3 linked regions of the Homo sapiens genome follow. The protein of the gene in region 1 purifies or fractionates together with the protein of each later gene. This does not show direct contact. Each region holds a gene or a part of one and is shown on either strand. Other genes may lie near its edges. The genes, in order: EEF1AKMT3, SMC1A and CAMK1D.

What was found.
Region 2: the proteins of EEF1AKMT3 (region 1) and SMC1A purify together in Homo sapiens (affinity purification with mass spectrometry; 2 studies listed by BioGRID and IntAct, with this or other methods). This does not show direct contact.
Region 3: the proteins of EEF1AKMT3 (region 1) and CAMK1D purify together in Homo sapiens (affinity purification with mass spectrometry; one large-scale study listed by BioGRID and IntAct). This does not show direct contact.

Annotation. Positions count from the first base shown.
Region 1 is NC_000012.12:57,778,955-57,782,681, reverse strand, and holds the end of EEF1AKMT3 (EEF1A lysine methyltransferase 3), read right to left. Parts: intron 2,428-3,727; coding exon 2,036-2,427; 3' UTR 141-2,035; downstream 1-140. UniProt on the Homo sapiens protein: Protein-lysine methyltransferase that selectively mono-, di- and trimethylates 'Lys-165' of the translation elongation factors EEF1A1 and EEF1A2 in an aminoacyl-tRNA and GTP-dependent manner.
Region 2 is NC_000023.11:53,398,523-53,402,249, reverse strand, and holds part of SMC1A (structural maintenance of chromosomes protein 1A), read left to right. Parts: intron 1-2,519; coding exon 2,520-2,661; intron 2,662-3,727. UniProt on the Homo sapiens protein: Involved in chromosome cohesion during cell cycle and in DNA repair. Central component of cohesin complex. The cohesin complex is required for the cohesion of sister chromatids after DNA replication.
Region 3 is NC_000010.11:12,356,047-12,359,546, reverse strand, and holds part of CAMK1D (calcium/calmodulin-dependent protein kinase type 1D), read right to left. Parts: intron 1-3,500. UniProt on the Homo sapiens protein: Calcium/calmodulin-dependent protein kinase that operates in the calcium-triggered CaMKK-CaMK1 signaling cascade and, upon calcium influx, activates CREB-dependent gene transcription, regulates calcium-mediated granulocyte function and respiratory burst and promotes basal dendritic growth of hippocampal neurons.

The sequences.
Region 1 (3,727 bases):
GGCCGGAGGAACACAGTCCTCGCCTCTACTTGATTTCTTGAGACGACACATTTCATACGGGAATTACCCCCCACCTCCCACCCCAGGTAAAATAACAGAAACCAAGAAATAAAGTCGTCACAAAACAACAACACAAGAAATGTGGGTAACATTTTATGTTTATTTTCAATGCGCATTTATATTCATTATCCATTTATGACTCACAACAAACTTGTGTGGTTGGTGAATGGGTTCGAGAATTTGTCCAAGGTCACCTAGGAAGGCAGGGGTGGAATCCATTAAACAAAGCGAGTAAATATTTATTGAATGAGCACAATATCTGTTGAACACCTGTTGTGTGCCAGGAACTGTGTTAGGCTTCAGGGGTTTAGACAGGAGTAAACCACAGCCCTACCCTCCAAGGTAATTTAATGGTGAGAAAATGAGAATCACAAATGTCCATGCAAGACAAATTAAGGTCCCATAAGATGAACCTTATGGGTCTCAGGGAGAAAGAAATCACATTCAAGCAAGAGGCTCAGGAAAGAGGCAAAGAATAATGAAGATTTTGACAGGTGGCAATAGCCTTTCAGGCAGAGGATTATCATAAAGAGTGTGAAAGAAGTCAGAAAACTTTAGTGTGGTTTTAGAGAACAAAGAGTACATCTTTTGTAATTTGGCCAGAGGTCCAATACACGTAGCAAAGGAGTAGGAAATGCAATAGGAAGGTAATTTTGGATCACATGGACACAGACTAAGTACCAAGCAGAGGAGCTTGTTCTTGCTTCTACAGGAAGTGAAAGCTAATCAGAGCTAATTTTGGAAGATCACAAGAGTTTGCGGAATGGACTGAAGGAGAAAGCATGGAAGCAGGGAGTCCAGAGAAGGTGACTATGTGCCTAAGCAGTAAGTAAAGAGAGCCCCAACCAGAAGTACCAATGTGGGAAGAGAAAAGAGGTTAAGGCAAAACACATTAGGAACTGTGTTAGGCTTCAGGGGATTAGAGATTAGGAAGGAAGGACTGATGAAGCTAAAGAAAAATCAAAGATGAAAAGAACTTAGTACTAGGTACAGTATTCTTCTGCACACAATGATGTTCCGTGATCAAGGCTCTAACTCTGGAAAGCATGAAGAAATACAGTCCAAAGGACAGCTCTGCAGCCTTAGCTTCAGAGCTAGGAGGACTTGACCCAGTTAGAGCCATGGTTCCACTAGACTCTATCTCTAAAAAGCAGGAAATGGGTGGTTTGAGGCTTCTTCCTTCTCAGCTCCTGAGTAAAAGTTGGGTTCTTGCACAATAGATTTTTAAGGCTTAATTCTTTCTTAAAAAAAAAAAAAAATCCTAGGCTAGCACAGTGGGCCATGCCTGCAATCCCAGCACTTTGGGAGGCAAGGCGGGTGGATCACTTGAGCCCAGGAGTTTGAGACCACCCTGGGCAACATGGCGAAACCCTGTCTCTACTGAAAATACAAAAATTAGCCGGGTGTGGTGGCGCATGCCTCTAGTCCCAGCTACTTGGGGAGCTGAGGCAGGAAGATCATCTGGGCCTTCAGAGGTTGAGGCTGCAGTGAGCTGTGATCACACCACTGCACTCCAGCCTGGATGACAGAGTGAGACCCTGTCTCAAAAAAAAAGAAAAAAAGAAAAAAAAATCCCACAGAATTTTTTTAAAGTCCATTCTGTGTAAACAGCAACAGGAATGGAAGTGATCAGTGACAGTCTGTCTACAATCACTGCTCTCACATCCCATATATCTCCCTTACCCCCTAAAAATCCTGGATACCTTACCATCCTCCTTCTCTGAGAACAGGAGCCAGGAACCTCCTTGGTGTTCTAACACTAGTGCTGCCAGAACTCTGGGATTCCTTGTAAGCAGGCACCTCACTGCACCTGCCCAAGAGTATCTGGGGTAACAAAGAGGGAAGGAGGAAAGTGAGAGAGGCCAGGGAAATCCATCCTTTTTGGTCCTCATGTTTGTGGCTCTGGAAATATGGTTTTTGAGATACACAGTTCCTTCATTAGAGCAAGAGATTGAGAAGAACAGCAAGGGTGATGTCAAGCAGGTCTTGGTTCCCTGTGCCTGGCCCTATAGATGTTGACATTTTCATCCTCATCCCGCTGAGCCAGCTCCAGTTGGAAATGCTGGGGCAGGAGGTGCTGAAAGAAGCTCTCTGTCCCATGCTCCTTTCTCATCTTGGAGGCCAGATAGATGGTGCCATGGGGCCTGCACAGGTGTTGGAGGGTCCCCAGCAGCAGAGGGAAGGTGGGTTCCAGGTACACGATATCAGCCCCCAGCACCAGGTCATAGTTTGCAGGGAAGACATGATGGTCAATCCCCCAGGACAAGGCACGCACCTGGGCCTGGCCTCCAGCTGGCACATTGGCCTGGACGTTGCCCTGGATCTGTTCTAGGGCCAGGGGCAGGTCAGTGATGGTAACATCCCCCCCTGAGAGAGAGGAAGGAGGAAAAATGCAAGTCAGAGGAACCAACCAAGGGTTCTTGGCTCCTGCCTGGAAGGTCCAGAGACCTCAGAGCATAGAGGACAATGTCTTGACAGCCCAGAGCCCACACTGGCTTTTAGTTGCCTCAACCTCCATTTCACCCACTGCTATTCTCATTACTCTACATTCTACAACATCAACATTCTCTCTGAGCTAATCTTCAACCTCTCTGGCCAACACACAACAATCAGATGTCAGCAGAAGCCTGGGCAGGACTAAGCTGGAGATGGGTTCTGTACCCACCCCCACTGACACAAGCTCGCCTTAAGGGTCTGGAAAGCTTCCCAGAAAATGTGACCTCAGCTGAGCCCTAAAGGACAAGTAGGAGTTAGTCAGGTGGAGCTTTCCAAGAAGAGAACAGTGAGTACAAAGGCCTGGGAGTGAAAGAGCATGGCATATTCAGGAAAGGCTGCATCTTAGAGGATGTGGAAGGGGGAGAAAAGTGTCAAGACATGAGACAAAGGGAAAGTGATTATGACATGCTAAGAAGATTCAGGTTCGATACTGAGGGCAGTAAGCTTTAAGGGCAGAAACGGGTGAAGATGGTCAGATTAGCATCTCAGAAACCTTCATTCATGCAGTAGATATAATTTGGAGAACCTTCTAAGTGCTGGGTATATAAGGTGAGCAAGACAAAAACACAGCTTTCTTTGTTTCATTCTAGAGGTAGAGACACACTAGGTACTGCATCATAATCATGATGACTATGATAGAAAGAGAAGCAAGAAGTACTAGGAATCCATTCATTCATTCATATTTATTATGTGCCTATATGCCAAGTGCTGAGAACATAATGATGAACTAAGAAGATAAGAATCCCCCCTCACAGAGCTTATGGTCCAGTGGCAAGAAACAGATGATAACAACAAACAAAATAAATAAAATAAAATACACTGTACATCAGATGGTAATATATGCCATGGTGAAGCCCCAAGCAGGGAAGGGGGATAAGAATTGCTTGAGGGATGGGGAGAAATGCAAGTTAGAGGGACCAACCAAGGGTTCTCGGCTCCTACCTGGAAGGTCCAGAGACCCCAGGGCATAGAGGACAAAGTCTTGGCAGCCTGAATGTAATTTTAAATTGAGTGGCTGGAGAATGAAATTTTAAATTGAGTGGTCAGACCAGCCTGACCAAAATGGTGAAACCCCATATCTACTAAAAATACAAAAAAATTAGCTGGGTGTGGTGGCGGGCGCCTGTAATGCCAGCTACTAGGGAGGCTGAGGCAGGAGAATCGCTTGAAC
Region 2 (3,727 bases), on another chromosome or scaffold:
AGGTCATCCCTTGTACCCTGGGCTTCAGTTAGCAGTTTAGCCCTTTGCCCATACAGTAAATATTCATTGCTGTCCTACTTCAAGCCAGTCTCAAGGGATATAGAATTGAATCAGACTGTATTTCTTTCCTCAGGAAACATATAGAGTACTGGGGGAAACATCAATTTGAGGACAGTGTGATCAATGGTGTAATTAAGGTAGATACAAAATACTGAAGAAATTTTCAAGGAACTGCAAATCAACAACAGGAAAAATAAAAAACAATGACAAGAAACCCAATGGAAATGTGGCTAAGTACTTATGATACCCAATGCAATGAAAAAAGTAAAAAAAAAAAAAGTGGCAAATAATATAGATAGGCTTTCATGGAAAGAGAAGTTCAAGTGGCTAATGACCATAGGAATTGAGGTCTAACCTCTTAATCAGAGAAATGCAAATTTAAAAGTCTGACAGTATTAGGTGGAAATCTATAGATGTCCTGTGTAGTATGTGAAAAAAATATATGTGTATATATATAATGTATATATATACACATATATAAAACCTATGGGTATATATCCCTGAGAGAGTCTTGCCATAGGGTCCCAAAGAGATACACATTCAGTGTCATTCATCTTGGCATAACTTGTAGTAGTGGGACATTGGTGGCAATGTAGATGGCCATTACTGGGGGAGCATAAGTCAAATGAATATATAGACTGGAATACTGTGTGGGAGTTCACAGCAAGAACTAGATTTGTGGGCAGTAATGGATAACTTATAAACCTGGTATTGACCAGAAAAAAGAATAAAATTTATAACACAGTAGATTTGTGTAAATTTTAGAACTAAGACATTTTACAAGGATATGCATTTTTAAGGAATGCATGTGTGTATGTCACTTTGTGGTGCATGTTCACAGTAGGGAAGGTAATGGGAATGGAAATTGGGGATTGAAACAAAGAGGACAAGGGAAGGGTCTTGCCCAGGCAGTGGTGATAAGTGTGTTATGAACTGTGGGATATGATTAACTTGCTTCTGCACCTAAAGTCTAAAAAGGGAGGAACCCAACAAAGTGTAATAGAAACTAGGAACCTGCTCAGAACCGTCAGGAAAGGTTTTACAAAACAGGGAGTGATGACTGGAGACCTGAAGAGTGAGTAGGATTTAGCCAGCCAGGCAGCGACAGAAAAAGTGAATTCCAAGCAGAGAGAACAGCATGCTTGGAAGTGTGAGAGAGCATGCCTTGTTCTGGATACTAAGTAGTTTTTAATGTCTGGAGCATAAAAGCAGGGTCAGGAAGAAGGTGGGGAGTGGTGGAGAGGTCAGCAGGGGCCGGATCACAGAGGCCTTTGTGAGTCATACTTAGGAGATTGGATATAAAATTGCATAGCTCAAAATTATAGAGTTAGTTATATTTCATTTGGATTATAGTGGCTAATAGGTTTAAGCTGCTAGCATGACATCTGGCAACATCTGTCACACCATATTGGGAGTTGGAGAGGGCAATTGGAAGTTAGTCCTGCCTGGCCTGCCAGTGCCTGTGTATGCTGGTTGCATACTCTTGAGTTTCTGAAGAGATGGAGAGGAGGACAATAGCAGGAATCCAGTATTTTCTCCATGTTTTTGTACTATCCAAGTTCTGCCCTTTAAGAGGTTCTGGGACCTTGGGGCAGAAGTTGGGATGCTGTAGTTGAAGCCCTTGGACAAAAGTAAGCTGAGTACAGTCAATATACCTGGTGATAATGGTAACTAAAATTGATTGAGTAGTTATCGTGGACTCGGTGTGGTTCTAAGGACTTTATACATATTAACTCATTTAAAAATCTCCCAATAACCCTGAGGTAGGTACTATTATTATGTTCATTTTGCAGATGGGGAAACAGGTCTGGAGAGTATAACCAACTTGCCTGAATGACATTACTAGTAAGTGGCAGAGTTGAGATGCCAGTCTTCTTAATCCACTACATTATGTTGCAGTGGTGGTATACTAGAAAGAGCCCGGGTTTTGGTGTTAAATCTGGGTTTCAGTCTCACATGTGCCATTTACTAGCTGTGTGGCCTTGGGCAAGGTCTTTTACCTCTTGGCCTAAGTTTTCCTCATTTGTAAAATTAGGATAATAATGCCTACTTGCAGAGCTGTTGATTAGAGGATTAGAGATAATGTATGTAAAGTACATAGAAGCCTAATAGGAATTACCATAGCTGGTAGAATCAGATGGACTCTTTTATGCCTCCTTGTAGGAACTTGGAGGGCGCTGGGGTCTTCATTGTTTAAAGGGGGATAAATAAGGTTTGGCCGAATCTTCCCTGCCTTATGCCATGTCCACAGGGCTAGGCTGAGGAACTTAGTTCTTCAGCTTCAGGGGACCGTTTTATGTGCATATGGATGGATGAAGCAAGTTGTGACTGAAAATCAGTAACTCTGGGTCCCTGAGCCCTGGGTCTAGTTTCCCTTTCTTCCCATAGTTGGATTTTGTACATTGGTTATCTCTGGCTGATGAGATTATGAGTGATTCTCCCCCCACCTTTATACACAGTTTGGAGTTTGAGAATCAGAAGACTCGCTTGGGCATTCAGTTGGATTTTGAAAAGAACCAACTGAAGGAGGACCAAGATAAAGTACACATGTGGGAGCAGACAGTGAAAAAAGATGAAAATGAGATAGAAAAGCTCAAAAAGGTAAGGAAGGAAAGAATTAAAAGACAGACTAATAACTGGGAGGAAAAATGGGAAGAAATACGACAGACAGAAGGATAATGTCCACAACTTAGAAATTTCTCATCTAAATCAATAAGAAAAATACCAAGACCTAAACGGGAAAAATGGATAAATGTCACAAACAGTTCAAGAAGACTTTCAAATAGTCCCTAAACACATACAAATAATTTAGTCTTACTAAAGAAATGCAAATTAAAGCAACAATTAGATACAATGTATTTTGTAACACATCGTGGAAAATGTAAAAACAGAAGACACAATGCTCAATACCAGCCATGGTATAGGAGACCAGTATTCTTTTTTTCTTTTTTTGAGATGGAGTCTTGCTCTGTTGCCCAGGCTGGAGTGCAGTGGCACTATCTTAGCTCACTGCAACCTCCGCCTCCCGGGTTCATGCCATTCTCCTGCCTCAGCCTCCCAAGCAGCTGGGACTACAGGTGCCTGCCACCACGCCCAGCTAATTTTTGTATTTTTAGTAGAGACGGGGTTTCACCATATTGGCCAGGCTGGTCTCGAACTCCTGACCTCATGATCCACCTGCCTCGGCCTCCCAAAGTGCTGGGATTACAAGCATGAGCCACCGTGCCTGGCCAGGAGACGAGTATTCTTATGTAATGTGGCACCATCCTTCAAGAAGCTTCACAATGCATTTATACTCTGTAACTCAGTAGTACCTGAGGAGATCATCCAAAATGCTGGCAAAGCTTTATGCAAACACTTTGATGTTTATAACAAGCATTATTTATAGTTCCAAATTGGAAACTACTCAGTGCCCCTTGGAAAGTGGGAATTTAGCAAATCATGCTACGTTTGTAACATTATTTATGTAGTGTCTTCAAACTTTAGTAATACACAGACCCTTTTTAAAGGAAAAATAGTCCCTAAGATTGCCAGTGTTGCCTTAAATCCGTGATGTTACTTAAGTATATATAAATATATATACTTAGAACACTTAACCAAATGCTAAGACAAAGTTAAAAATTAAATACTAACAAAATGAGCAAAATTTAGATTGACCATGTAAATT
Region 3 (3,500 bases), on another chromosome or scaffold:
GGTGCAGAGAAAAAAAAAAAAACCGAGAAGCTACCCAGGGGGAGGGCTGAGCCTGGGACACACAGCTAACTAGGTCACTCCAGCACCGGAGCTGGGCCAGAGGACGTTTCAGGCAGAGTCTTTTGCTTAATGCTAGCATTACATGAACTAATCACCCCTGTTGGGAGCAAATGTTGAATGGCTCAGCGGGCCTTCCAAATCTGTGGAAATGGCCTCTGAGGGGCAGGGATAAATGATAGAGAGCGGGCATTGACTGCACACACACCCACGTGCCACACACGGCTCTCAGTGGTTCCCGTGCACCCTCATTTCATCTTCACCACAAGCCTCACATTAGGTCCAAGTGTCATCCTGTTTTACAGATGAGGACATGAGGCTCAGAATGGTAAAATAATTGGCCCAAAGCCATACAGCTAGGAAGCTGTGGACCCAGGATTTCCACCCATATCCGTGTAACCTCCGAGCCTATGTTCTTAGCTACTCACTGTACCAGGAAGAACAACTGTGGATTGTTCTTCTCTGGCTGACTGAAGAATTGTTTATGATTGCTGAAACCATAAATTTTGGGGGAGGTTAAATATGCACCATCCTGCCTATTTGCAACAAGAGCTTCCAAAAAATCAATTTCCAACAGATACTGACGTGTTCTTCCCCAATGGAACCTGCCCCAAATGTCCAAGGGAAGCCAACCTCAGCTGCTGGAGGTAACTACAGCTTGATGACAGTTACTGTATATTCAATCCCAGTTATGTGCCAGGTACCTCACATATGTCACTGAATCCTTACAACAATCCCACAAGGCAGCAACTCCTATCTCCCTCTTAAACTCAGAGAGATTAAGGAATCTATCCAGAGGCATTCAGCTATGAATGCCTGCACCAGAACGATCTTTCTGTTATGTTACGTTGCCTCCTTTACCCGGCCTCAGCAAATATACCCTATCAAAGGCTTGCTCTCAAGGTTCAGTGTTCACCAGGAGACAGAATCCCCCATTTCTTTTTTCTTTTATTTTTTGAGACAGAGTCTCACTCTGTCGCCCAAGCTGGAGTGGAGTGGCACAATCTCGGCCCACTGCAACCTTCGCCTCCCAGGCTCAAGCGTTTCTCACGCCTCAGCCTCCCGAGTAGCTGGGATTACAGGCATGCAACACCATGCCGGCTAATTTTGGTGTTTTTAGTAGAGACGGGGTTTTACCATGTTGGCCAGGTGTTGAACTCCTGACCTCAGGTGATCCACTCGCCTCAGCCTCCCAAAGTGCTATGATTACAGGCATGAGCCACTGTACTGGGTCCCTCATTTCTTTTTTCTTTTCTTTCTCTATGGGGACACGGTCTCTCTCTGTCACCCAGGCTGGGGTGTAGTGGTACCATCATAGCTCACTGCAGCCTCAACCTCCCAGCCTCAAGTGATCCTTCTGCCTCATTCTCCCAAAGTGCTGGGATTACAGTTGTGAGCCAGCACTCCAGGCTGGAATCTCTCCATTTCTAAGTCCTGCTGAAAGATTTGGAAAAACAGCACAAGACACAGAGAACAGATAGCTGAAGATATAAAATGAACTTGGTCTGTGGCGGAATGAACTTGACCTACGGCATGTATTTGGAGGTGACCTTTGATCTAACTGGAGCCTGAATAATCAATACACTGCATAATAAACCAAAAAAAAAGAAAAGAAAAGAAAATCAAGTGAGATCTAATAAAAAACTACCCCGGAGAAAAAGAAATCTCCCTCACCACAGAAAGTCAAAGGGGCATAGCCAACGTGAACCGAGATCAGGCTGGAATCTTTCCCGGAGTCCACGTGTCCTCCTGCACTAAATAAGCACGGAATTGACCATCTTGCATCAGGAAAATAACGTGGGTCCGCTGACTCGGGCACCAGCTTCATGGTGGCTGCCTATAAGCAGTTCCTTCATTAATTAAAGAAACATAATGGCCGAGTGCAGTGGCTCATGCCTGTAATCCCACCACTTTGTGAGGCTGAGGTGAGCAGATCACTTGGCGTCAGAAGTTTTAGACCAGCCTGGGCAACACGTTGAAACATAATCTCTACCAAAAATACAAAAATTAGCTGGGCGTGGTAGTACGCGCCTGTAGTCCTACCTACTCGGGAGGCTGAGGCAGGAGAATCACTTGAACCCGGGAGGCGGAGGTTGCAGTGAGCCAAGATCACGCCACTGCACTCCAGGCTGGGTGACAGAGTGAGACTCCGTCTCAAAAAAAAAAAGCAAACACCTGTAATCCCAGCTACTCAGGAGGCTGAGGCAGGAGAATCGCTTGAACTCGGGTGGCAGAGGTTGCAGTGAGCCGAGACTGGACCACTGCGCTCCAGCCTGGGCGACAGAGCAAGACTCTGTCTCAGAAAATAAAATAAAAACTTAAAAAGTAAAAAAAGAAAACATATCCCCGGTGGGCAAGTTGACCAGTAATGTGACAAATCTCCGCTGGACCCATGCCTAAGCCCTCCCAGAGGAGAGAGGAGGAGAAGCAGGAGGAGAGAGATTGAAGGGGATTTAAGGAGATTTATTTGGGGAAAGGAAAGATTAAAGAGATTTACAGAGACCCAGCCAAAGGAAAACTCAACAAGTTAACCCTTGAAATCCTCCCCTGAGAGCACACAAATCTCCACCTGGCACCAGCAAACCTAATTACTGTCCATTCAGTGGCCAAGTTCGAACCAGAAATTTGTACTTGAGACACAGTCATCATTAGCTTCTCTGGGAACAAGCTCTACCCAAACTCCCACTTCCCAAATCTCATTTTACTAATCAATAAGGACACTGAAGTTTGTTATCTTCACCTTTTCTTTTTTTTTTTTTTTTTTTTTTGAAATGGAGTCTCACTGTGTCACCCAGGCTGGAGTGCAGTGGCACAATCTCAGCTCACTGCAATCTCCACCTCCAGCATTCAAGCGATTCTCCTGCCTCGGCCTCCGGAGTAGCTGGGACTACAGGTGCACAGCACCACACCCAGCTAATTTTCTGTATTTTTAGTAGAGACGAGGTTTCACCACGTTGGCCAGGCTGCTCTCGAACTCCTGACCTCAAAAGAGGAGGTACCTCAAAGTCCCTCTGAGAATTTCACCTTCAAATTCAGAAATCCCTCCCCAGGGGAGCCCAGAAGCCCAAGGCTGTGTGCTTGCCCGTTTCCAGAGCCTCCCAGCACACGGGCACCCATAATGTGTAGACAGAGCAGGTGCTCCGAGAATTCCTGGGGAAACTGAACAAAACCACCAAATGAACTGTTCGTCCAAGCCCAGGTCCTTGGGGAATCTCACACCCCACATCCAGTCCACCAGCAATTCCTACCAGCTCCACCTTTAAAACACATCCGGAATTCGGCCAGGTGAGGTGGCTCACGCCTGTAATCCCAGCACTTTGGGAGGTGGGGGCGGGCAGATTTTTTTTTTTTTCTTTTTGAGACGGAGTCTCACTCTGTCGCCCAGGCTGGAGTGCAGTGGTGCAATCTCGGCTCACTGCAAAATCCCAGGCAGGCTCCCACAT